Linked DNA regions of Homo sapiens: regions 1 and 2 are each linked to region 3. The links come from fine-mapping of genetic effects on gene expression. A gene starts in region 3. Each other region holds a variant in brackets. All regions are shown on one strand. Distances are between the middles of the regions.

Region 1 (8,176 bases), 85 kb after region 3:
TCCTGAGTAGCTGGGATTACAGGCACGGTCCACCACGACCGGCTAATTTTTGTGTCTTTAGTAGAGATGAGGTTTCACCATATTGGTCATGCTGGTCTCGAACTACTTACCTCAGGTGATCCACCTGCCTCGGCCTCCCAAAGTGTTGGGGTTACAGGTGTGAGCCACCACGCCAAGCCTATTTATTTTAGATACAGTGTCTTCCTCTGTTGACCAGGTTGAAGTGCAGGGGTGTAGTCATAGCTCACTGCAGGCTCAGACAGTCCTTCTGCCATGGCTTTCCAAAGTGCTGGGATTACAGGCATAGGCCACTGCACCTGGCCTAAATTGTGATAATTTTACAGTTTGCCTCAAACGAGGGTTGATGTCTGGGCAAGGTCTGCTGGGGGCCTCCCATATGCAGGCAGTCTCTCTGCTGTGCCCTCCACCAGCACTGAGGGTCACCTGCCCACAGGCACCCCTCTCCTTTCCCCTCTGGGGAAGGCCAGAAGTGACTTTTGAGGTTACCTGAGGGTCTTTGTCTGGAAAAGGGTGTGAAGCTGAAGCCGATGGCCTCAGTGTCCAAAGGGGAACACTTCCCACAGGCGTTGGGAAGCCACAGGCCTGACAGTGGGGTCCTGGTCTTGGCGGTCTCAGTCACCTGGCCACCCATTCCTTCCTCACTTAGGCATCCACCTGGCGGGCTGCCCACACCCTCTTCTGTCTGTGCTCAGCCAATCAGGCAAGCCAGGGTTACAGCCCTCCCTGTCCTGGGCCCTGGCTCCATGAAGCACCATGTGCCTTGGAAGACCTCCCCGATTGATCCTGTCTCCCCAGTATCTTCTGCTAAGGCAGAGGTTTCCCTGGGCCCCTGCTCTGGTCCGCTTCCTTGGCACAGTTTGTAGCTGTGCCTGACACAGCCCACCTGCCTGGCTTCTGTCTCAAACCCACAGCCAGGCCATGTGACAGCCGCTGCCTGTGCCCAAACATTCATCCAGCCCCACCCAGGAGAGCCAGACAGGCACTCATACCCTCACCCACACACCCCCACCCACACACCCCCACCCGCACACCCTCACCTGCACAATGTCACCCACACACCCTAACCCGCCTGGCCCTGCTGCGCCCCCACCCCACTCTCCCTCTAAACCTACTGGGGGAGCAGCTTCCCCTATATTTGCTTGCTCCACCTCCTCCTAGAGCTGGGTCACATACCAATTCCCACACTCTTGGCAGGTTGGTCATGGCCCTGGCAGGTCTGAGGACAGGATGGACACAGGACTGTGTGTAGCATAGAAAGGTCAGGGAGTGCAGCCTCCTACTCTGTGCCAGCTGCCAGCCCCGGAGCTTACTAGGCTGATGGGGACAAAGAATGCACCAGAGGGGACAGTGACCATTGTCCCTGGGTTAGTCCACCACAGGACTGATGGGAAGTTCATGGATGTACTGATTGCCCTGTTGCATTTGTCCTCAGGGGCGGATGCTGAGATGGAGTTAGGAGAGCAAAGGGGAGGAAGGGAGCTGGGCATGGTGGCTCATGCCTGTAAATCCTAGCACTTGGGGAGGCCCAGGTGGGAGGATTTCTTGAGGCCAGGAGTTTGAGACCAGCCTGGGCAACATAGCAAGACCCTGTCTCTACCAAAAAAAATTAAAAATTAGCCAGGTGTGGTGGCTGTATTCCCAGCTACTTGGGAGGCTGAGGTGGGCGGAACAGTTGAGCCTAGGAGTTGTCAATAGAAATCAAGTGTTGGGATATTGAGAATAGCAGCATAATGAGGGTCCAGAGTATGTTCTTAATACTAATGGTATAATTTCGAGCTTCTGATATATACACAAACATGTATAGCTACACCAGGGATTGTGCTCAAGATTTGACTTACATTAGCTTGTTTAAGCCTCTTCCACACACTATTTGAGGCAGGTACTGTTGTTATCATTTTATGGATGACAAAACTTAGAAGCAGAGCATTTAGGAAACTTGCCCAAGATCACACAGCCATGAAGCAGACACCAGAACCAGAGCCCTAGGCTCGCAAACTTCACTGCCTTCACTCCTAGGCTGTATGTTATTCTGACCATCTCTCAGCCAGGAAGTCACTCCCTTATGCAAATGACATTGTCTGTGCTGATGGTTAAATATTTCTATTCTCACAACATGTGAAAGAGAGAGCCTGATTTGTTAGCTAAGCCCCAAGGGTTTCTCCTACCATTTCAGAGAGAGAGAAACTTTTCTTTGCCCCTAAACTGTGGCAAAGAAAACAGAGAGGAGGAAACAGCCATCAGAAGACTAAAAATCTCTCATCTCTGCAAATAAGAATTCACTCTAACTGAGCTTTTCTGCATGCAGCACTGGGAAGAGACCTTGTTTTTTATTCTATCAACTTACCCATTTAACAATTTATTGAGAACCTGTTGTGTACCTGATGCACTGCTGGCATTGGGTATGTAAAAATCAATGCAGCATGGTCCTTTCCCCAAGCAACTCAGTTTCCTGCTTGGTTCTCTTTTCTGGATCATTTTAATTATGGTTCACCTTTTAAGTAAAGGACAAACAGAGAAGTAGCACTGAGTCAGATTTTTGCCACTAGTCTTATACAGGTGACATATTTTTCTTAATGCTCCCCACACATGGGATCTGAGCCAGCTGAGCCCTGAAACCTCCCAGGCTGAGAACGTAGTGTGGCACTTCACATGAGACTGCGCAGAAGTTGATACAACTGGCATGTTAGCCACAGGAACTCTGCCAAGCGTTCGGGAATAGAAGGGGTGGACAGGACCCCACCTGCTTTTCCTAATCTCATGGGTATCAGGCACCAGGCAGCCTTGCCCCTGGAATGAGACATCTCAGGTAGGGGTTGTCACTGTTCCAAGCTTCCTTTGATGCCGTTTTGATCCTGGATGTAGAGTTGCCACGTGGAGAGCGAAACCACCAGAATATATAATTGAGAAAGGAATGGAAAGATGGACAGATACCTAAATAGATACATAAATACTTTGCAGAAGTCTGGGACAGTGGAACGTAGGAAGAGAGCCTCAGATAGAGAGAGAACAGTAGGTTGATTGTGGTAAAGGGAAGGCTTCACTTTGTTATTCAATATAGTTATTTATTGACTTGTTTAAACAATATGTATGTCTTTAAAATTAAAAGATAATTTGGGGCCGGGCATGGTGGCTCACACCTGTAATCCCAGCACTTGGGGAGGCTGAGGTGGGGTGGATCACGAGGTCAGAAGTTTGAGATCAGCCTGGCCAGTATGGTGAAACCCCATCTCTACTAAAAATACAAAAAGTTAGCTGGGCCTGGTGGCAGGCACCTGTAATCCCGGCTACTCAGGAGGCTGAGGCAGGAGAATCACTTGAACCTGGGAGGCGCAGGTTGTAGTGTGGTGAGATCACGCCACTGCACTCCAGCCTGGGCGACAGGAGCGAAACTCTGTCTCAAAAAACAAAACAAAACAAAACCTTGCATCCTTTCAGGGGGCTCACACCTCCCTAAGGGCCCAGTAATTAAACCCTTTGGGCCTGAGGGTGAGAAACTTTGTCTCAGTTCTTCCCC[A/G]AGTGATCAGCCCAGGTGTAAGGAAGGAGAAGCCAGAAAGCAGGACCCATGAGAAGGGCCCCCTCCTGGAGTTTGAGGCCCACTCCCTCCTGCCCCTGCCTCTCCTCTGTCCAGGACTCCTCCCTGCTCTGCCCCACTCCTGGGGCCATAACCATGGGGAGCTGTGGTTTTCTACAGGCCCCTGGGCACAAAGTGGGCAGGCTCACCTGGAGGCGATCAGAGTAACATGGCAGGAAGTGAGGGGGAAAGCCGCCCTGGAACTGCGCCTCTCTGCCCCCTGACGTCACTGGCGTGCACTCCTCCCTCCCCTCATTCAGGCAGTGGCATGAGTTCCATGTGAGCGCTGTCCTGCTCCCTCTGCTGCCTCTTTTTTTTCTTGGGGCTGCCATAACACTTTCCCTTCCCCAGCCCTGCCAACCTGGTGGGACATTGGGCTTCCCTCTCACAGGGTCCTGGGGACAGGCCCATCCTTTATCATACGCACAGAGAGACCGTTTTTTCCTTCAGGACCTGGGGAGCAGCCAGGTTCCATGAGTTAAATGCAGATCTGAACCAAGCTGGGATTGGGGTACACACTCTCCTCTACTGAAAAGTAGCTAGGGATTCCAACTAGGTGAGAAGGAGAGTGGGGCAGAGCCAGACCAGACAAGGACTGATCACCTGGAAAAAGCCTGCCATCAAAGGTCTTGGCAAATGCTGGGTGCAGTGGCTCACTCCTGTAATACCAGCACTTTGCGGGGCTGAGACAGGTGGACTACTTGAGGCAAGGAGTTCGAGTCCAGCCTGGGCAACATGGCAAAACCACATCTCTACTAGAAATACAAAAATTAGCTAGGCATGCTACACTCCTGTAATCCCAGCTACTCAGGAGACTGAGGCAGGAGAATCACTTGAACTGGGGAGGCAGAGGTCGAAGTGAGCCGAGATTGTGCCCCTGCACTCCAGTCTGGGAGACAGAGTGAAACTGGCCTCAAAAAAAAAAAAGAATATGGCCTTGGCAGAGAGGGGCCAGCCCAGCAGTGCCTTCCCTTGGGTTTCTCCTGGGTAGGCCTCTGCCATGAGGAGGTGCTTCCTTCTGCCTGTCCATGGCCCACAGCAATGGAATGTCTGCTTCTGGGGGTTGGGTGGGAGACTGCTGGCAGAACTGGAAACCTTCAGGTGGGGTTTTTTTGTTTTGTTTTGTTTTCGAGATGGAGCGTCGCTCTGTCACCCAGGCTGGAGTGCAGTGGTGGAATCTCAGTTCACTGCAACCTCCGCCCCCCTGGGTTCAAACAATTCTCCTGTCTCAGCCTCCTGAGTAGCTGAGATTACAGGCATGTGCCACCATGCCCGGCTAGTTTTTGTATTTTTTGTATAGATGGCATTTCACCATGTTGGCTGGGCTGGTCTCGAACTCCTGACCTCAAGTGATCCACCCACCTCGGCCTCCCAAAGTGCTGGGATTACAGGCATGAGCCACTGAGCCCAGCCCCTTCAGGGGGGTTTTGAGGCTTCACTACAATACTAGTTTCCTGTGGCTGCTGCAACAAATTACCACACACTTAGTGACTTAAAACAACCAAAATGTATTCCCTTACAAGTCTGAAGGCCAGAATTCTACAGTAAGTCCTTCTGAGTCAAGGTGGGAGCAGGGTTGGTGGCTTCTGAGGCTCTGCGGGAGAATCTGTTTCCTGGCCGTAGAGGTGGCCTGCACTCCTCAGCTTGTGCTGCCCGTCTTGAATGACTGGAGTTTCCTGCTTCTGTCACTACACCTCCCACCCTCTCCATCACCTGCTCTGCTCTTACAAGGATCCGAGTGAGTACATCAACCCCAAAAGCCAAAGACCCTTAACTTCATTATATCTGCAAAGCCCCTTTTGCCATATAAGGTCATGTTCACCAGTTCCCGGGATTAGGATATGGGCATCTGGGGGGCATCAGCCTGCTACAGCTAGGCTGCAAAACTGTTACACCCTCCTGGTGTTTCAGTGATTGGGAGAAAAAGGGTTGGCATTTTTTGCTTAGAGGTCCCTCTTAAACTTGTATCTGTAAGGTCGGGGGTCCCTCTTAACCTTGTGTTTTTGTTTTTGTTTTTTTTTGAGGTGGAGTCTTGCTCTGTCATCCAGGCTGGCAGTGGCGTGATCTTGGCTCACTGCAATGTCTGCCTCCTGGGTTCAGGTGATTCTCCTGCCTCAGCCTCCTGAGTAGCTGGGACTACAGGCGCCCGCCACCATGCCCTGCTGTTTTGTATTTTTGGTAGGGACGGGGTGGGGGTGGGGCTAGGGAGGGGGCTTTTGGCTATGTTGCCCTGAGCTCAAAGTGATCCGCCTGCCTCTGCTGCCAAAGTGCTGGGATTACAGGCCTGCACCACTGCACCCGGCTGCTGTAAAGTCTTATTTCACACAGCTGAGACATGTTTTAGGAAGTTTGCTAAAAGACCCCTGGAGACCGCCTCATTGTGACCTCCCTGTTATTGTGTTTAATTTGATTGAACTTCTCTGCCCTCCTGCTTTTCAGCTTCTCTAATAGTCTCCCATTAAACCATTCTAAGAACCACCAAAAAGGGGAAATTTTTTCTTGAAAGCAGTAAAATGATATGGACTGTTAGAATGTAAAATATATGAAATCAGTCATTATACGTTAGTGCTGCTCTGACATAGGGACGTATTATTGAGAAGCAACTTTTGCTTGATTTTCAGAGAAATGGAATCATCGTATCGCTGATCTATGTAAACAAACTGAAGAATTGTCTGAAAGAAAATATGGTATGTCTAAACTGGAAAAGTCCTGTAATCTTATGTTCATGGGCGTTTACACAATGGAGTTACTGTTCATCATGGGGGTACCGTGGACAAGCCCAGGGCTGCCGGCGAGTCATGCCATCCTTACACGTTTCTCCTTGTAAGGTGCTTTGTAGTGTCTACACACTTTGTTTCTAGATTGCTGCAAAGCTGAGGAAAAGTTGTATTTCTTTAGTTATTAGTTAGCATTTCTTTTAAACTTTCAGTATGGAGATTGGAAATTTATTTACATATTTATTGCAAAGCCCTGAATCTTAGGGATTTCATTGAATTATTTATTTATTTTTTTTGAGACAGAGCCTCACTCTGTCGCCCAGGCTGGAGTGCAGTGGCACGATCTCGGCTCTCTGCAACCTCCGCCTCCCGGGTTCAAGCAGTTCTCTGCCTCAGCCTCCCGAGCAGCTAGGATTACAGGCACCAGCCACCATGCCTGGCTGATTTTTGTATTTTTAGTAGAGATGGGGTTTCATGATCTTGGCTAGGCTGGTCTTGAACTGCTGACCTCCTGATCCACTCACCTCAGCCTCCCAAAGTGCTGGGATTACAGGTGTGAGCCGCCATGCCTGGCCAAATATTATTTTTTTAAATGAATTGTTTCTCTTAGTCTGTTTTGTTAAATTTGGAATTCATCCGGGTGCGGTGGCTCACACCTGTAATCCCAGCACTTTGGGAGGCCAAGGCAGGCAGATATCTAGGTCGGGAGTTCGAGACCAGCCTGACCAACATGGAGAAACCCCGTCTCTACTAAAAATACAAAATTAGACGGGTGTGGTGGCGCATGTCTGTAATCCCAGCTATTCGGGAGGCCAAGGCAGGAGAATCGCTTGAACCCAGGAGGCAGAGGTTGCGGTGAGCCGAGGTTGCACCATTGCACTCTAGCCTGGGCAAAAAGAGCAAAACTCCATCTCAAAATAAATAAATAAATAAAATGTTCAGTACTCTCCAAGGTGCCCCTATTGTCTCTACTTTTATCTTGATGCATCACTGAATTGATGTTAGATTTCAAATTCATCATTGCCCTGCTACTATTCTATCCTGAAGCCACCTTTATATAGTGATGAAAGAAATTAGCGATTTGTTATTATCCTCTCTCTGTTGGTATACATCAAATACTCACCTAAAAAAGAGCAACAACCAGTGGAAAACGTGATGTTTTTATTTGGGTGACTATTTACTTGTAACCTACTAGCAAACTATAAAATTGTATGATATGCAGAATTTTAACTGAATTGCTTTAAGTGAACATTTAAACATGATAAACAATATTGATGGTATTTATGTTAATATACTTAAAATGAACATTTTTCTTCATCATGAGTAATATAACCTACTCCTCAATGAAAACCTAGCACTAAATTTGCTAATGAATTCAATAACATTTCCATAATATTTTTAGTTACATGCTTAAGGTTCTCTTAGTGTTTCTCCCACTTTTTAATAGCTTATGCCTTTTTCACCTTTGGTTTTTTTTTGGTTCATTTTAAAGCAAAAATCTCACAACATGTGATATCTGGAAACACTGTAACCTAGTGGTAAGACCATAGGCCCTGGGGACACAGGCTGGCCACGTCTCTTCTCCTGTCTGAGCTTTAGTATCCTCTTTTGTGGTCATGAGAACTGAAGATCTGTCCCGAAGATTTGATAAGATAGTAAAGTGCTTCACATAATACCAGACATATAAATACACAGTAAATGCTTCCTCCTTATATTTTTATTGATTGATTGATGGAGACAGAATCTTGCTCTCTTGCCCAGGCTGGAATGCAGTGGCGTGATAATGGTTTCTGCAACCTCCACCTCCTGGGTTCAGGCAATTCTCCTGCCTCAGCCTCCCGAGTAGCTGGGATTACAGGTGCCTGCC
Region 2 (8,176 bases), 71 kb before region 3:
TTTGAGCCTGAAAGTTCAAGCTGGCAGTGATCTATGTTCACGCCACTGCACTCCAGCCTGGGTGACAGAGCGAGCTTTGTCTCCAAAATAAAAATAAAATAAAACATTACCTGGGCGTGGTGGTGTGCACCTGTAGTTCCAGTTACTTGGAAGACTGAGGCAGATCACTTGAGCCTAGGAATTTGAGGCTGCAGTGAGCTACGATCACACCACTGCACTCCAGCCTGAATGATAGAGCTATGACATTGTGTGATTTGGAGGGGGTTTCTACAGGAGCAAATCTGTTCCCACAGCGACCAAGCACCCTCTCAGCCATATCAACCAGCAAAATACACCAGATGCCCCAGCAGAAGAACGGTCTCCCAGCCTTACCACCATGTTCAGAGGCACCAGCCACTTGTGCCTCTCAGGACACAGACGGCAAGATCCTGTCTCAGAAAAAAAAAATTGTATTATGAAACACAACAGAATTTATTCTTGCCTCTCACTGGCTTATCTTCCTGCTCTCTAATTTCAGACCTTTCCGTTGGGTGTTTAGTTAATGGCTTCACTTTTCTTCCTAGAAACCACAACATAGAAGAAGCCACTGCATCTCTGCAATATTCTCCCCGGCACGGGAGGACCCCGTCCCACATCAGCCCCCTCCTTCCTGCTCCTTCACCTTCGCACTCCCCACACATCTGTCCTTGTCTTCCTGCTGTGGACCATCCTCCACCCCAGGGACCTAGAGCCCAGTCTCCAACCCAGACAGAGGGAGGGGGACGGGAAAAGGGGAGTAGGACACCAAGGAAAGAGAGAGAGGTGGGTCAAAGGAAGAGAACGAGAAGAAAGAGTGAGGAGAAACATCACACCAGAAGACGGATGCCCCTCCAAACACCCACACGAAACAGTTACACCCTGATGGAGGCAGACAGCAGGAGGAAGAGCAAGTGCTGATGAACAAGATAAATGGGGACGTGAACCAGCAATGGGAGCAGGAGCTGCAGGGAAGAGAGAGGGGACGACAGGACAAGACCCTCACTCACCTGTGGGTGGGTCCCTGCAGGGGAACAAACTCAGCAGAGTCACCTGTGGAGGAGTTCCTAGCGTCAGAGCCATGCACTCATCCTCCTGTGTTTGCTCCCACTGGGTCGGGGGACAGGAGGAGCCGCAGCCCCAACCTCCTTCCTCAGCCCGCACCGACTACTCATCGGGTTGTGGAGCCCACGGCACCCTCAGCCTCCAGTGGCCCCTCAGGCTCAGAGAGCAAGGCTCACACAGACCACAGCCTCCTCTCAGAGGGAGAAACAGGCTCAGGGAAGGAGCTGGTGCTGGCAGGAGAGGTGGAGCCAGGAGCAGTGCCCTGAGCCCACCCAGGATTCCCACCTGCCTCCAGGACACCCTGGCTCTGGCCAGGTGGCAGAACCGCCTCCCACTGCCCACACAGGTACTGAACCCAGACACGGGGTGAAGAGGGGAAGCTGACTTCAGACCTCAGCTCCCAGGGGACCCCACAGACTCCAGCCCTGGAAGAGGTGCTCCCAAGATTACAATTAAAAAGACCCACAGAGGGACCTGGGGACAGGAACAGGAGCAGGGCCAGTGGGGACAGCGTGAGGAAACCCAGCTGGGGGAGGAGGAACGCAGGGCAGAGGAATACAGGAATGCGGAGGACATTCTTGGTGCCCTACATTGCCCCCCCACACACACATCAGCACTTCCCAGCGACCTCCAGGGCCCTCATGGGGTCTCCATGTCACAGCTGTCCCTTGGGCCCTCGCTGCACCCCACACCTGTCCTTCACCTGCCCCCATTAAGTCAGCCTACATCACCCGTGACATGCAAAGCACTGGGTGGGGGGCTCTGGACACAGTCCTTGCTCAAGGGGTCTACAGCCTCGTGGGAGGGAAAGAACAGCCCCACCTTCACGAGAGTCGGGTGGAGCCTGGGGGCCTGGTTGGGATCCTCATAAACCTGACAGGCGTTTCTGCAGGGTCAGTGTCTTCGTGGGCTGCTGGGGATGGGGCTGAAGTCCACGGTTCTGATGCTGCCACTGCCTTTTACTCTCAAGAGCATTTCACATCGGAGGATGCATTTTATGGTCACTCTGTGGCTATTTATGTCCCATGGAAGCAGGCCATTTTCTCAGGGGCCAATGTGCTTGAAATCCCCTTGCCACATGGCTCAGACACCAGAGGCGTTTGTTCCTTCTGAATCTCGACTTCCTTGTGTGTCTTTGCTACCACACTTTTGGTGTGTGCCCTCTTCCTGATCCAGCTTCCAGCTATGGCAGGAGTCTGAGGAACATGCAGGCGAGGAGGCCATGAGGGAGACACAGGAAGACCGGGGCAGAGAGAGGTAGACTAGGGAGGAAGGGAATGGCCACCTCGCAGCTGGAGTGGGGCAGGCTGGCTTTTGAGGACTGGACCTGCAGCGTCTCCCACTCCTCTCCCACACCGGCCTTCTCCTCTATCCTCCTATGCACCCAACGCTTTCCACACTCACACTTTTTCTCCAGCCACTTCTCCCCACCGGCACTTCCTCTGTCTTCTTCCTCTGTTACTCTTCAGCCTTATCTAATTCCCCAAGACCGAGCTCAAGCCCACCTCCATTCAGATTCCTCCGGAACTCAATCCACCATGACCTCCGCCGGCCATGGCTTCCTGTCTACACTCTGGCAGCGTATGTCCATGGCCTGCTGACAGCTCTTGTATTGCCTTTTATCGTATTATTCAGGGGGAACTTTTGATCATGTGCAAACAAGGAAACACTTTTATTTTTGTACAGCCACTGCTTTTAAATAAGACATCACAATTCATTCTCCACATCTTCATGACATCTCATGCAGATCAAGAGTTTTCTGGTGACTTTGGGTGGTAAGACGAAGGCTCATTTATATATTCTAAAATCCAGTCCATTGAAAATCAAAATTTGAATCTCACATTCAATTCAGTGTTGGTCCCCTTGACACAGCCTAAATCAAGACTAACTTGGGGCTTGGAGTCCCACAGTAGAGAAGGGAGAAGAGTCTGCTAACAGCAATCATATTATGTGTCCTTTCAGATTTTAAGGGAGGTGGGGATACTCTTTGAAATGTCCGTTTTTCTCAAATAAGTTACTAGGATGTCTGAACTGATTTATTTGGAGAACTGCCCTGCATAAATAGAAGCACTGTCTTTTACATGAGTATCTTAATTTAAAAATGTTTAATCTGGCACGGTGGTGCGTGTCTGTGGTCCCAGCTACTCTGGAGGCTGAGGTGGGAGGATCATTTAAGCCCATGAGGTCAGGGCTGCAGTGAGCTGAGATCACACCCCTGCACTTCAGCCTGGGCAACAGAGCCAGACCCTGTCTCAAAAAAAAAAATTATTGTCTAGGACATTCAAATTTTCAACCTCCCCTAATTTTTGTACTAAAATGAAAGCAGCAGCTGTCACATAAATGTCCAGGAAATGTCATTATTGATGTTTCTCTGTTAAGAATTCTTCTTAAATGCTCATCCTATTATTATGTTTTATTCTTGATATTTTAGAGAAACTTACTGATGTATTTACTGAGGAAACTATGTGATTTCTGAAACTTATTTGTAGATAATCCAGTTGTGAAGGGGAGAGGGAGAGGTGGGTGGGGAGTAGACGGAACGGTGTTGACCCTGAGCTGCCAATTGCCAGCACCGGGTGGTGAGTGCAGAGAAGTTCATTATACGATGCTTCCAGGTTTTAGGTGTGTCTAAAATGCTCTATAACAAGAACCTGGAAGGTCACTCCACACTGGTTGAGTAAACTGTAATGTATCCACATAACAGAGTGCCGTACGACTGTAAAAAGAACATCAAGTGTTTCTTCTTCTACACTGGAGGGATCTTCAGGAGGTAAGGAGGGAAAAAGCA[T/TGG]GGTGCAGAACAGAACACAGCCTGCTGCTTCTGCCGTGAGAAAGGAGGAAATCTATGGACAAGGTTGTTTTTTACATTTTCAAAATCAACTATAAAAGGATAATTGCAAACTAATAAATACGGTTCCACATAGCAGGAGGGAAGAAATGTGTGTACGAGACAGAGACAGAAACTAGGTTTTTTTTTTCTTTTAAGAGACAGGGTCTTGCTCTGTGGCCCAGGCTGGAGTGCAGCAGTGCCAACATGGCTCACTGCAGCCTCCAACTCCTGAGGCAAGGGCACTCTCCTGAGCTCCAGAGATCCTCCTGCCTCAGCCCCTGAGCAGCTAGGACCCCAGGAGCATGCCACCACACCCGGGTGATTCTTTAATTTTTTGTAGAGATGAGTCTTGCTATGTTGCCCAGGCTGGTCTCAAACTTCTGGCTTCAAGCAGTCACCCTCCTCAGCCTCCCAAAGTGCTGGGATTACAGGCAAGAGCCGCCACTCCTCGCTAAAACTACACATCTGTAAGTGTGCTTTATTTTATAATTGGACTTCAGTACATGTTTCATACAATTAAAAATCAAAATTATATCAAAAAGTAAAAAAATTTCAGCCACTGTGGACTAGTTTGTATAAGAACAACTTTCATGATAAGAACAATTGGAGAAATTGGATAAAATCTAAAAATGAAATATTTTATAAGTGATTATAAAGATGCGGAAACAGCCACGACTCAAGGGTCTGAGACCCGGGGATGTGTTCTCGGCTGAGCTGGACATTGGGTGGTGCTTTTCCTCTCCAGGCATTTGCTGACTCATCCCTGGCACAGGGCCCAGAGGCTGGGAAGCTGAGCGAAGCCTCTTGTCATCTCACAGATCTGGGAGGGAAGAAATTGGGTTTAGAGACCTCAAAAACACCCTGACCTCCAGCTAGGACCCCAGGAACACTACACACTAAGAGTAATTATTAATCAGAAATAGAGAATTCTCACAAAGACTGAACCCAGCTTCACGCGGATCAGCCACAGGTTCACACGCATCAGCCACAGACTGGCTTAAGGAAACCAGCTGCTCATCTAGCTGCCCCACATAAGGAACGGTAAATCTTCTCTAGAAGAAAAGGATATTACCCACAGCTTCAGATTATTCGCATCATTTGTCTGCCATTCAAGAAAAAATTACCAGGCATTCTAGGGACAGGATAAAATGACCAAATTCAAAAAGACAAAAAAGAAACAAACTTAAAGGAGATCCAGACTGGCGTTGCCATTCATGAGCTTTAAATTAACTGTTATCACGATGCTCGAGAGAAAAAAACCAAGACGGATAATTTCACCAGACACCTGTAACCTTTGAAAAGAATAAAACGAAACTCTAGAACTGAAAGTATCAAAAACTAAATAAACAACTCAATAGATAGATTTGGCAATAGTTTAGACACAGATAGTTAGTGAACTGAGTAAGAGGTCAACAGACAAAACCAAGGCTGAAACACAGAGAGAAGAGAATACAAACCATGGAAGGGAGGGTGAGAAACACACGGGCATAGCAAGGTCTCACTTCAGTGCTGCTGGAGTCCCAAAAGTAGAGGGGCAGGAAAGAACAGGATGGAAACAATATTTTTAAAAGATATAGATGGAAGCCGAGGGGTGGTAAAAGCCAGGTCTCATGGCTGATGCCTGTAATCTCAGCACTTTGGGAGGCCAAGGCATGAGGATCACTTGAGGCCAGGAGTTGGAGACCAGCCTGGGCAAAATAGAGAGACCCCATCTCTACAAAAAATTTAAAAATTAGCCAGGTGCAGTGGTGGGCACCTGTGGACCCAGCTGCTTGGGAGACTGAGGCAGGAGGATCACTTAAGCACAGGAGGCTGAGGCTGCAGTGAGCCAAGATTGTGTCACTGCACTCCAGCCTGGGCAAAAGAGTGAGACCCTGTCTCAATTAAAAAAAAAAAGAAAGAAAAGAAAGAAAAAAATATGGGTGGAGCAATTTTTTAAAGTGATGAAAGAGATCAAGTCACAGATTAAGAAACTCTGTTAACTAATAGCAAGAAGAATACAAAGAAGTCCAAGCTAGGCTCACCACAGCATTACAGCTGAGAAGCAAAACAAACAGAAAAGTGTTAGCAGTATCCAGAAGAAAAAACAAAGTACATTAAAAAGTGCAACAAGAAGACTAACAGCAGGCTTTTCAACACACACACACACACACACACACTGCAACAAGAAGACTAACAGCAGGCTTTTCAACACACACACACACACACACACACACACAACAGTGATGAAAGCTAACATGGCACCCTTAACGTCTTGGAATAAAATTACTGCCCACATAGAATTATAGTTCCAACAGAAATATTATTTTAAGATGAAGGCAAATAAAGATGAATTCATGCAAACAAAAACTTTTAGAGTATTTTCTGTCAGAAGATTTGCACCAAAACAAAACAAAACCACAAAAATGAAAAAAGGAACCAAAACAAAGAGCAAAATACAAAACCCTAAAAGGAATTCTACAAGCAGAAGCAGAAGGAAAATGATCCCAGAGGATGGACATGCAAAGAGGGGTCTGGAGAACAACAGAAAGGGTAAATGTGTGAGTGAATCCATCTGCATATTGACAATATCAAATCAGGTTAGTGAGGCTGCGTGGGGTTTGAGATATGTGTAGAATCTAACTGCATAAAAACAACGACAAAGAAGGCGGAGTGGTGGGGAACTAACGCGTTCTAAGGTCCTCGTGAAAGCCAGGAAGTAGCAAAAATACATCTTTATATGAGGCACCAGTAAGTGAGGTATGTGGCTTGTAATTTCCAGGTCGCCACTTAAAGAATAAAGAAAATAACTAAGTTATTAGAGAAAGAAGAAATAAATGGCAAATACCACTTTTTTTCTTTGAGACAGAGTCTCGCTCTGTCACCCAGGCTGGAGTGAGTGCAGTGGTACAATCTCAGCTCACTGCAACCTCCGCCTCCTGGACTCAAGTGATTCTCCTGCCTCAGCTTCCTGAGTAGCTGGGATTATAGGCCTGCATCACCGCCCAGCTAATTTTTGTATTTTAAGTAGAGAGGGGGTTTCACCATGTTAGCCAAGCTGGTCTCAAACTCCTAGAGTCAAGTCATCCTCCTGCTTCGACCTTCCAAAGTGCTGAGATGACAGGCATGAGCCACCGCACCTGACCAAATATCACTTTCTTAGTTCCTCTCCTAAGTGCCCCCAAAAAAGGCAGGGAGAGAAAGATAAGCAAAGTAGGACAAGTAAAAATCAAATAGTAAGATTATGGATTTAAACCTAAATATATCAGATATTGGTATGAGCTTAATTATATCCCTCAAAATTTATATATTGAAGCCCTAATCCTCAGTACCTCCAAATGTGACTATATTTGGTGATGGGTGTAATGGAGGTGATTAAATTAAAATGAGGCTCTTAGGGTGGGCCCTAATCCAAATTGACTTGTTTCCTTCTGAGAAAATAAATTTCTATTGTTTAAGCCACTTCGTCTGTGGTACTATGATAAGTTAGCCCTGGCAAACTGATCCAGACATTACATGTACATTAAATGTAAATGGACTAAATACATCAAATAAGAGATGGGCCAGGCACAGTGGCTCATGCCTGTAATCAGGCGTGACTCCATCTCAAAAAAAAAAAGAGATGAAGATATCAGGCTCAATTTTTTAAAAAATATTAATATTTGCTCTTAAAATTTAGGATATTAACAGGTATAAAACAAAAGGAGGGACAAATACATACCCAGCCAACAATAACAACAAATGTGATGAAGTCAATGCTAAATTCAGGCAAAGCAGACGTAAAAGCATTAAGCTAAACTGGAAGAAAAGGTATTTCACAAAAGGATCAACCCTCCAAGAAGATACAGCAACAATATGTATATACACATGTACATATATAACCTCAAATATACAAAGGGAAATTTGACGGAACTAAAAGTGGAAATAGGCCAGACACGGGGGCTCACGCCTATAATCCCAGCACTTTGGAAGGTTGAGGTGTGCAGATCACAAGGTCAGGAGATCGAGACCATCCTGGCTAACACAGTGAAACCCTGTCTGTACTAAAAATACAAAAAATTAGCCGGTGTGGTGGGGGGCGCCTGTAGTCCCAGCTACTCGGGAGGCTGAGGCAAGAGAATGGCGTGAACCCGGGAGACGGAGCTTGCAGTGAGCTGAGATCGCGCCACTGCACTCCAGCCTGGGCGACACAGCGAGACTCCGTCTCAAAAAAAAAAAAAAAAGTGGAAATAGACAAGTTCACAAAAATAATGTGAGATTTTAGCACAATTGTCTTAGTTATTTTAGAAC
Region 3 (8,176 bases):
GTGACCAGAGGTAGCAGCACACCCCCAAGGAACGAAGTGAGAATATGCGGCATGCAAGTGTCATATTCTGTTCTTTCCATTAACAGCATACACCGGATTTTTTACTCGAGTTTTCAGATGCAGACTCATGCCCTGATCTCTTGATTTTTTATGTGAACACACGTTTGGCACTCAATATGTCCCACCAGGAAGTTCCTCTTCCTTAAAACTCCTGGGCGGAGGAAGGGAGTCCTGTGAAGTTGGGAGACCTGGGTTCAAGGTGTCCTACAATGCCCCCACCTTTCCTTCAGCTTCCAGGCAGGCTGCAGTAGCCTGGAGCGCCTTATGGATATTAACTCCCTCAACCCTGACGGCAGCCCAGTGGGGAGGGTGCACTTCCCTTCAAGTCTTACAGGTGAGGAGACAAAAGACAGACACATCACCAGGAAGTGTTAAGCCAGGCTTCTCGGCCAGTTGCCTCACAAGGAGGTAGCACAAGTGAAACAGTATTTGCCAAAATACTCTAAGCCAGGGTTTCCCAACCTTAACACAGTTGACATTTTGGGCCAGATACTTCTTGGTTGTAGGGGGCTGCCCTGTGCCTTGTAGGACATTTAGCCGCCCCTCTGGCCTCTACCACGAAATGCCAATAGCATCCCTATCCCATTGTTGACAACCAAAAATATAGTATCTCCAGACTTTGCCAGATGTCCCCTGGGGTAGGAGCATTTTCAAATAAGAGCATTCCTTCTCCCTTTTGTGTTGCAGCAATAGTTGGGCTCTACCTCTGATGTTTCATTAAGCAGGGTATTGTAAATGAGACAAGTGTCATAAATCCAGAAGTATTTTATTGCTGCAAAGAACAGGTAGAGCTCACACCTGTCATCTCAGCACTTTGGGAGGCTGAGGGGGGCAAAGTCAGGGGAGAAGGTTGCTTGAGCCCACGAGTTCCAGACCAGCCTGGGCAACACAGGAGACTACCCCCAACCCCAGCTCTACAAAAAATAAATTAAAAATTAGCCGGGTGTAGTAGTGCACACCTGTAGTCCCAGCTACTCAGGAGGCTGAAGTGGGGGGATCGCTTGAACGACTCCAGCCTTTGTGACAAAGTGAGACTCTGTCTAAAAGCAAAGCAAAACAAAACAACAACAAAAACGAATGTGGGGGTGGATGGATGGATGTTGGGAGAGGACAGAGGTGGAAGGTGTTAAGCAAGGCCTGGGGACTCCGGTCAGAGACTGTGAAGCTGCCGCCGGTGCCAGGGAAGGCCCTCTGGTTCCTGGATGTCAACCAGTGGGGGAAGAGCTGCATTGGGAGTCATTTCTCCAGTGGAGGAGGGATGAAGGTCTAGAGGGTGAGCTCTTCCTCATGGAGGAAAGTGAGTGATGAGGTAGGAAGGTCTGGGATGCACACTGGGTGCAGGCATAACAGATATAGTTGAGGGTCTGGAAAGGACCCTAGGGTGTCTGAACTCCAGGCTCCTCCTCCACCCCTCCTGACATTGAGGATGGGAGGGTCCTCTAGTTCACCTTCCTTCAATTCCCTGCCTTGACAGGTCCTAGTAGATCCTTTCATTCTTTTTTTTTTTTTTTTTTGAGATGGAGTTTCACTCTCGTTGCCCAGGCTGGAGTGCAGTGGCATGATCTTGGCTGACCGCAACCTCTACCTCCCGGGTTCAAGTGATTCTCCTGCCTCAGCCTCCCGAGTAGCTGGGATTACAGGCATGTGCCACCACGGCAGGCTAATTTTGTATTTTAAGTAGAGATGGGGTTGCTCCATGTTGGTCAGGCTGGTCTGGAATTCCCAACCTCAGGTGATCCGCCCACCTCGACCTCCCAAAGTGCTGGGATTACGGGCGTAAGCCACCGCACCCAGCCAATCCTTTTATTCTTTCAACACCTATTTACTGAGCTAGGAACTGAATTTGCAAGGTAGAAAATGACCGATGGTGATTCATGTTTGCTTATCTTTTTTTTTTTTTTTAAGGTGGAGTCTCGCTCTGTCTCCCAGGCTGGAGTGCAGTGGCGCGATCTCGGCTCACTGCAAGCTCTGCCTCCCGGGTTCACACCATTCTCCTGCCTCAGCCTCCGGAGTAGCTGGGACTACAGGCGCCCGCCACCACGCCCGGCTATTTTGTATTTTTAGTAGAGACAGGGGTTTCACCGTGTTTGCCAGGACGGTCTTGATCTCCTGACCTCGTGATCCGCCCACCTCGGCCTCCCAAAGTGCTGGGATTACAGGCGTGAGCCACCCTGCCAGGCCTCATGTTTGCTTATCTTAACCAAAATGAGCCCTCGTTTCACTTTCCTGTTCTACCCTAAGGAAGATAAAATATCATTCCAACTTGGGGTAGAGGCAGGTGCCAGTACCCAAGACCCTGGGCTGTGCAGCAGGGGCTACTGTAAACCCAAGACCCTAAACTTCCTCCCTCTGCCAGAGCCAGGGAGCAGCTCTGACGCCCTCTAGCCCCTTCTCCGTTAGCCTCGATTTCAAATAAAAACACTGTGAACATGAAATTTTTTTCACTACTGTTTTGTTGACAAAACATGCCATGAGGCTCTTTATTGTATTAATATTCCCACTTATTGAATATCCATGTTTCTCTGCAGAAATAGTAATGTGTTCCATTACAAGATGCTTCCGCAGGCCCTAACTGGTATGTTACGTAATATCAGAGTGACTGAGCGTCCTGATTCGCTGGGACAGCTCCAGTTTAAGCCAGTTGTTTTGCAATAATTATTTTAGCACTGCTTTTCACTTTAAAAAGCTCTGGTTTGTACAACAATTATGTGGACACCCTATATAATATGGACTCTATTATCTTTCTGAAATCGATTCTGCGGTTCCATAGCACACACTCCAACACCACACACACCGAGCCCTGGTGCTGAGTTCTCAGGCCTCTGTAATGTCCCACGGGGGGCCTGCGGGTGCCTGGCTCACCAGCAGCTCCTTGCTCTCCTTCTTTTCCGTGGACCGGAACACCTCACAGTCCTCCAGTTCCTTCTTCAAGACCCTCAGCCTGGACTCCAAGAGCTCCTGTAGATGAAGGGAAACAATGTAAGGTGGGGGTGAGGGGCTTCTGGAAACCCCCACCTCTGCCTTCCTGGAGCCAGCCAGGAGAAAGGGAAGGCCCTGCTCACTGAGGGGGAGGCCGGGTAGAAGTCATCTCTACAGGCTACAGGTTACACTGCGAGGTGACTCTGAAGGTCTCGGGATCTTGCTTCCCCAAAAGCATCTGCTGGACCAGCCAGACTGAAACACAAGCTCCGGCAGCCCTACCCCTAGTCGTCTCCTCTACTCTCCGCCCCCCCACCAGGAAGCCCCGTGGCTGGGAGAGTTGGAGCAGGATGGGCCAGCAAGGAGAGACTGGGGACTGCCGCCCGAGCCTCCCCGCCCCGCCCTCACCCCTGCACACACCCTCGCTGAGGCTCAGCGAGAAAATAGCAAAGAAAGGGCCCCCAGAATCGACAGCGTTGGCACAGTCAGACGGCTCTAGGTGCGCGGCTTAACCCGGGAGCCCCCTCCCTGGACATCTTGGCGAGGTCCTCTCACTCAGTTCCACGAGGTGGGGACTTTGAGCAGAGCCCGCTTCGGGGAAAGAGATAAGAGTGGGGGCAGCGGCTGCGTGGCTGTGCCGGAGACTTCCCGCGGGCAGAGAGCTGCGGAGACGCAGACCAGGCTAGAGGCTCCGAACAGACAGGAAGAACATCGCCAAGTCCGTGGGGGACGTCGCGCAGGCGGCCCAGTATCTGGCCCAGAGGGAAACGCAGTGGGGGTGGGGTGGGGGTATTGGTGATGTTGGGGGTGACAGAGAACCGCGCTCAGCCCGGGAACCAGCGCTGGGCTTCCTGGAATGGAGAAAGAAGGGAGGGGCTCACCCGGGCCTCCTGATCGACAGGCTGTTCTCTGCACCCCGTGCGCGGGAGCGCGGGACCAAGTCAGGGGGTCCCGGGGACCCACGGGGTGGGTGGGGGCTGCGCTCACCTTGGCCTCCTGCACCGCCTCGTCCAGCGGCAGCACGGCGTGCTCGCGGTGCTCGCGGGCGCGGTCGCACACCACGCAGATGGCGCGTCCGTCGTCCTGGCAGTAGAGCTTGAAGGGTTCGCCATGCTGCCCGCAGCGGGCAGCCGCTGCCCGGGCCGCGGCCGCCTGAGACCCGTGCTCTCCCGGGGCAGCCGCGGGCAGGCTGAAGCGCCGCAGGAGCGTGGCCACTGCCGCCAGCTGCCGGTTGGGCCGCAGCTGACTGGGGCGCGCGGGCTCGCGGCACTGCGGACAGGGCAGTGGGAAGGGGGGCGCGCGGGTGGCGGCCCCAACAGACCCCGCGCCCGGGCGCTCCCAGCAGCGCCCTATGCAGGCGCGGCAGAAGCTGTGGCCGCACTCGACGGACACCGGCTCACGAAAGAGCTCTAGGCAGATGGAGCACGTCGCCTCGCCCTGCAGCTCTGCCGCCAGCGCTAGAGCCTCGGCGCCGGTTCCGGGGCCGGTCCGCGGTCCCACAGCCGCCATGCGCGCTCTCCGCGCACCCAGATCTGGTCGCGCCTGGGCGGCCACTGGACCTCACAGGACGCGGAGCTGGGCGCCGAGGGCCCACTGGGAGAGGAAGGGCGGGGCTGCCACTGGGCAGGCAGAGACTCGAGCCCGGGGCGCGCCCGGCTGGGAGCCGGGAGGGGAGGCGCACGTTGACTACGGGCCATTCAAGTGCGGGACAGCGCCCTGCGCCCCGGATCTGCGCTCCACCAGCCCCCGCCCTGGCCAGCGGCCTCTCCCCCTCGCCCCCGTCCCTCAGACTCTCCAGGCCGCCCCAGCCTGACCCAGTCAGCCGCGGGAAACGGGCCGCGACAGGTGGGCGCACAAATGCTGCCAGCGCCACTCCCGGTTTCCGACCGAGGCCGACCCAGCATCGCCGGGGCAAGGGCCTGGCGCTCGGGCCACGGTGTCAGGTTCCGCCAGCGCAGGTTCGCCCCGGCCCTGTGCTGAGTTAAATTTAGAGACTGGAACCTGGTCCTGTCCCCTCACGCGCAAGCGTGGCCTTGTATCCATTCCATTACCTTTTCTGCGACTGTCCTCCGGCTTCTTTACTCTTTACTTAGTATTTGAACAGATAACACATTTATAATTTCCCATTGTATTCAGTATTATTCCCCCCCCACCGCACACACACACACACACACACACACACACACAAACCTCAGCGCTCTCTTGTCCCCCAGCTGTCTCCACAGCCCCGCAGCAGAGCTGCCTGTGTTATCCGCTTCCACACCCTCTCTCCTCGCTCACTCTGGAGGCCACTTGGATCAAGCTTTCGCCCGCACCCTCCTCAGAAACCGCCCTTGCCAATGTCACCGGGAACTTCAGCAATTCTCACCCAAAGGCGAAGACCTCGCCTCACCTCATCTGCCCCCGGATGCTCCCTCCTTCCCGACTTCCCTTCTCAGGGCCTTCCAGGACCCAGTGTCCCCGATCTTCTTGCTGTTCCTGAACCCCGTGGCCTCTGCGCTGGCTGTTCCCCTTGCGTGGACCTCTTTTCTCCCACCACCTGCATGCTCCCTCCCACCTCATTCAGGTCTTGTTTCAAACGTCTCTGCCCACGAAGCCCGCCCCGAACGCGCACACTGTGTAAAGTCGTCTCTTAGCGCGCTCCCTTCTCAGGGCCGGCTCTGTGCCCGCACTCTATCTCCTCTGGAATGTCAGCTTTCAGATGGACTGTACTAGGTTTGTTCACGGCTGAATCCTGTTTTTAGAGCAGTTCTTGGCAAGCTCAGTAAGGTTTTCTTGGATTAAACTTGGTTCGAAATTCAAAAGAGGAGCCGCAGTTCACGGTGGAAAGTAGGCCCATCGCCTGTGTCCCAGTCCTTTCTTCCTCCCGAGCAATCAACTTTACAATTCTGGATTACGTTAATCAAATATTCCGTATTTTATTGCCTCAACCCCCACTTTTAAAAAACAAAACGTAGCATCCTGCACAATTTTCCTTTCTTCTCTTTTTCAGGTCACAGTTCATTTTTGGCATCGTGCCTGATGATTGTCTCTCCTTTTTCCACAGCTGCTCCCAGGTGCTTAGCCGGGCCTAATCCTCTCTCTTGGAATCCCTTGGTCAAGACCCGCTGGTTTGGAGTCAGCGGAGGACGCTGGAACAACTCTTGCCCTGCGATGCCGGGTTTTTGCAGCGGCTGAGACCCAGCGCGTACCGGTTGCCTTCCACTCCCGGTGTCCTGAGTTAAGCGACCAATAGGGACCATCTGGGAGAGCTGCTGAGAGTAGGTGGGGATGTAGCTCAGTGGTAGAGCGCATGCTTTGCATGTATGAGGCCCCGGGTTCGATCCCCGGCATCTCCAGTGTAGTTTTGCACATTCAATTATTGTTTTCGATTTTCCTTTCAAATTTTGAAATCCAGCATGTTTGAAGAGCTCCAAGAAAAAACCCAGAGGGTGGAGTCTGCGGAGTAGAAAAAGACCGCGGCGGCCCCTGCCCTCCTCTGGGCCCCATTGTCTTTCCCTCCTGTTTTAAAATCCACACGGTACTTGACCGGGTGAGGTAGCTCACGTCTGTAATCCCAGCACTTTGGGAGGCCGAGGCGGGTGGATCACGAGGTCAGGAGTTTGAGGCCAGCCTGACTAACATGGAGAAGCCCCGTCTCTACTAAAAATACAAAAATTAGCCGGGAGTGGTGGCACACGCCTGTAATCCCAGCTACTCAGGAGGCTGAGGCAGGAGAAGTGCTTGAATCCAGGAGGCAGAGGTTGCAGTGAACCGAGATTGCGCCACGACACTCCAGCCTGGGCGACAGAGCCGCAGTTCGTGGTGAAAGGTAGGCCCATTTTTTGAGAGTCTTCTCTGTCAAAAAAAAAAAAAAAAAAAAAATCCACACGGTGAGAGCTCCAGTGGCGTCAGGGTGCACGTTTCTCCATCTCCGTGCCGTGAGCTTCATCGCGGGTAGAAAATGGCTTGGTCGCTGGTAGGGTAGAAGGGGCAGGAAACGGACGTAAGTGGGAGGGACGGTCAGGCACTGACGGCAGAGTTTGAATTTCCCAGGAGCCGAGGCACTTTAGTAGTTTTATCACACTCCAAATAAATCCAAGTTCAAACCCGCAGTTGAATACACTCCGACTCTGATCTAGAATGAAAAATTGTTGAGATACGGTCATCGGGCGCCCGGCTAGCTCAGTCGGTAGAGCATGAGACTCTTAATCTCAGGGTCGTGGGTTCGAGCCCCACGTTGGGCGGCAACTGGTCGTTTTAGTCCTAAATCTACGACTACTAGCCATACCTAAAAATATATTATAAGTAGACCAGCTCTTAGGAAAATAATCTGCTCTGAAGTCTTGCATTTCTGTGTGTGTAATACTCTTGCGGGCGCTCCACTGTTCATTATCTACCCATTATCTTGCGATACAATTAGGATTTAAAGCTGTGGTAAAATATGCCCAACAAAATTTAACACTTTTTAACTGTACAGTTCTGTAGCATTAAATACATTTAAATGGTTGTGCATCAGTCTCCAGTCCTTTTTCCTGTTTCCCAGATGAAACTCTGAACCCATTCAGCATTAACTCTCCATTCCCCTCTGCCCACAGACGCTGGCAACCACCATTCTACTTTCTGTGTCTTTGAATTTGACTCCTCTAGATACCTCATATAAGATGAATCGTGCAATATTTCCTTTTTAAATTGTCTTATTTCACTTAATGTCTTCAAGATTCATCCTTATATTTCCTTTTTAAATTGTCTTATTTCACTTAATGTCTTCAAGATTCATCCTTATTGTAGCATGTGTCAAAATTTCCTTCCTTTTAAAGCTGATTAGCATTCCATTGCACATATATACCACATTATCCATTCATCTGCCAATGGACACTTGGTTCCTTCCTCCTTTTGGCTACCGTGGATAATGCAGCTATGAACATGAGTGTACAGATATCTGTTTGAGTTTAGGCTTTCTATTTTTTTAGAGTATACATCACAAAGTGAAATTACTAGGTCATACGGCATTTCTGTTTTTGCGGAAGTGTCATACCATTTTCCACAGAGGCTACATCACAAATGAGCTTTAAAAAACATCTTTCGACCTGGCGCGGTGGCTCACGCCTGTAATCCCAGCACTTTGGGAGGCCGAGGCGGGCGGATCACGAGGTCATGAGATCGAGACCATCCTGGCTAACACGGTGAAACCCCGTTTCTACTGAAAAAAAAATAC

Evidence for each region.
Region 1: its variant is fine-mapped to the expression of TRIM7 in aorta (GTEx, PIP above 0.99).
Region 2: its variant is fine-mapped to the expression of TRIM7 in lung (TOPMed, PIP above 0.99).

Annotation. Positions count from the first base shown.
Region 1 is chr5:181,285,460-181,293,635 of GRCh38, forward strand. No RefSeq gene overlaps it. Among named protein-coding and RNA genes, the nearest start is that of TRIM52-AS1, 28 kb to the left of the region's middle. The variant A/G (reference allele first, on the strand shown) is at 3,536.
Region 2 is chr5:181,129,148-181,137,323 of GRCh38, forward strand. It overlaps OR2V1 (olfactory receptor family 2 subfamily V member 1), which reads right to left and starts at 2,022. Exons shown (of 4, transcript NM_001258283.2): 1 at 1,903-2,022; 2 at 1,026-1,068; 3 at 373-428. RefSeq lists an enhancer at 808-1,309. The variant T/TGG (reference allele first, on the strand shown) is at 3,869.
Region 3 is chr5:181,200,623-181,208,798 of GRCh38, forward strand. TRIM7 (tripartite motif containing 7) reads right to left here and starts at 4,574. Exons shown (of 7, transcript NM_203293.3): 1 at 3,967-4,574; 2 at 2,923-3,018. The coding sequence starts at 4,488. It overlaps TRIM7-AS1 (TRIM7 antisense RNA 1), which reads left to right. Exons shown (of 2, transcript XR_001743050.3): 1 at 1-394; 2 at 1,966-2,495. It overlaps TRA-TGC3-1 (tRNA-Ala (anticodon TGC) 3-1), which reads left to right and starts at 6,246; the gene lies at 6,246-6,317. It overlaps TRK-CTT2-2 (tRNA-Lys (anticodon CTT) 2-2), which reads left to right and starts at 7,133; the gene lies at 7,133-7,205. RefSeq lists silencers at 1,727-2,021, 3,833-3,902, 3,943-4,272, 4,533-4,852, 6,157-6,256 and enhancers at 6,957-7,016, 7,397-7,486.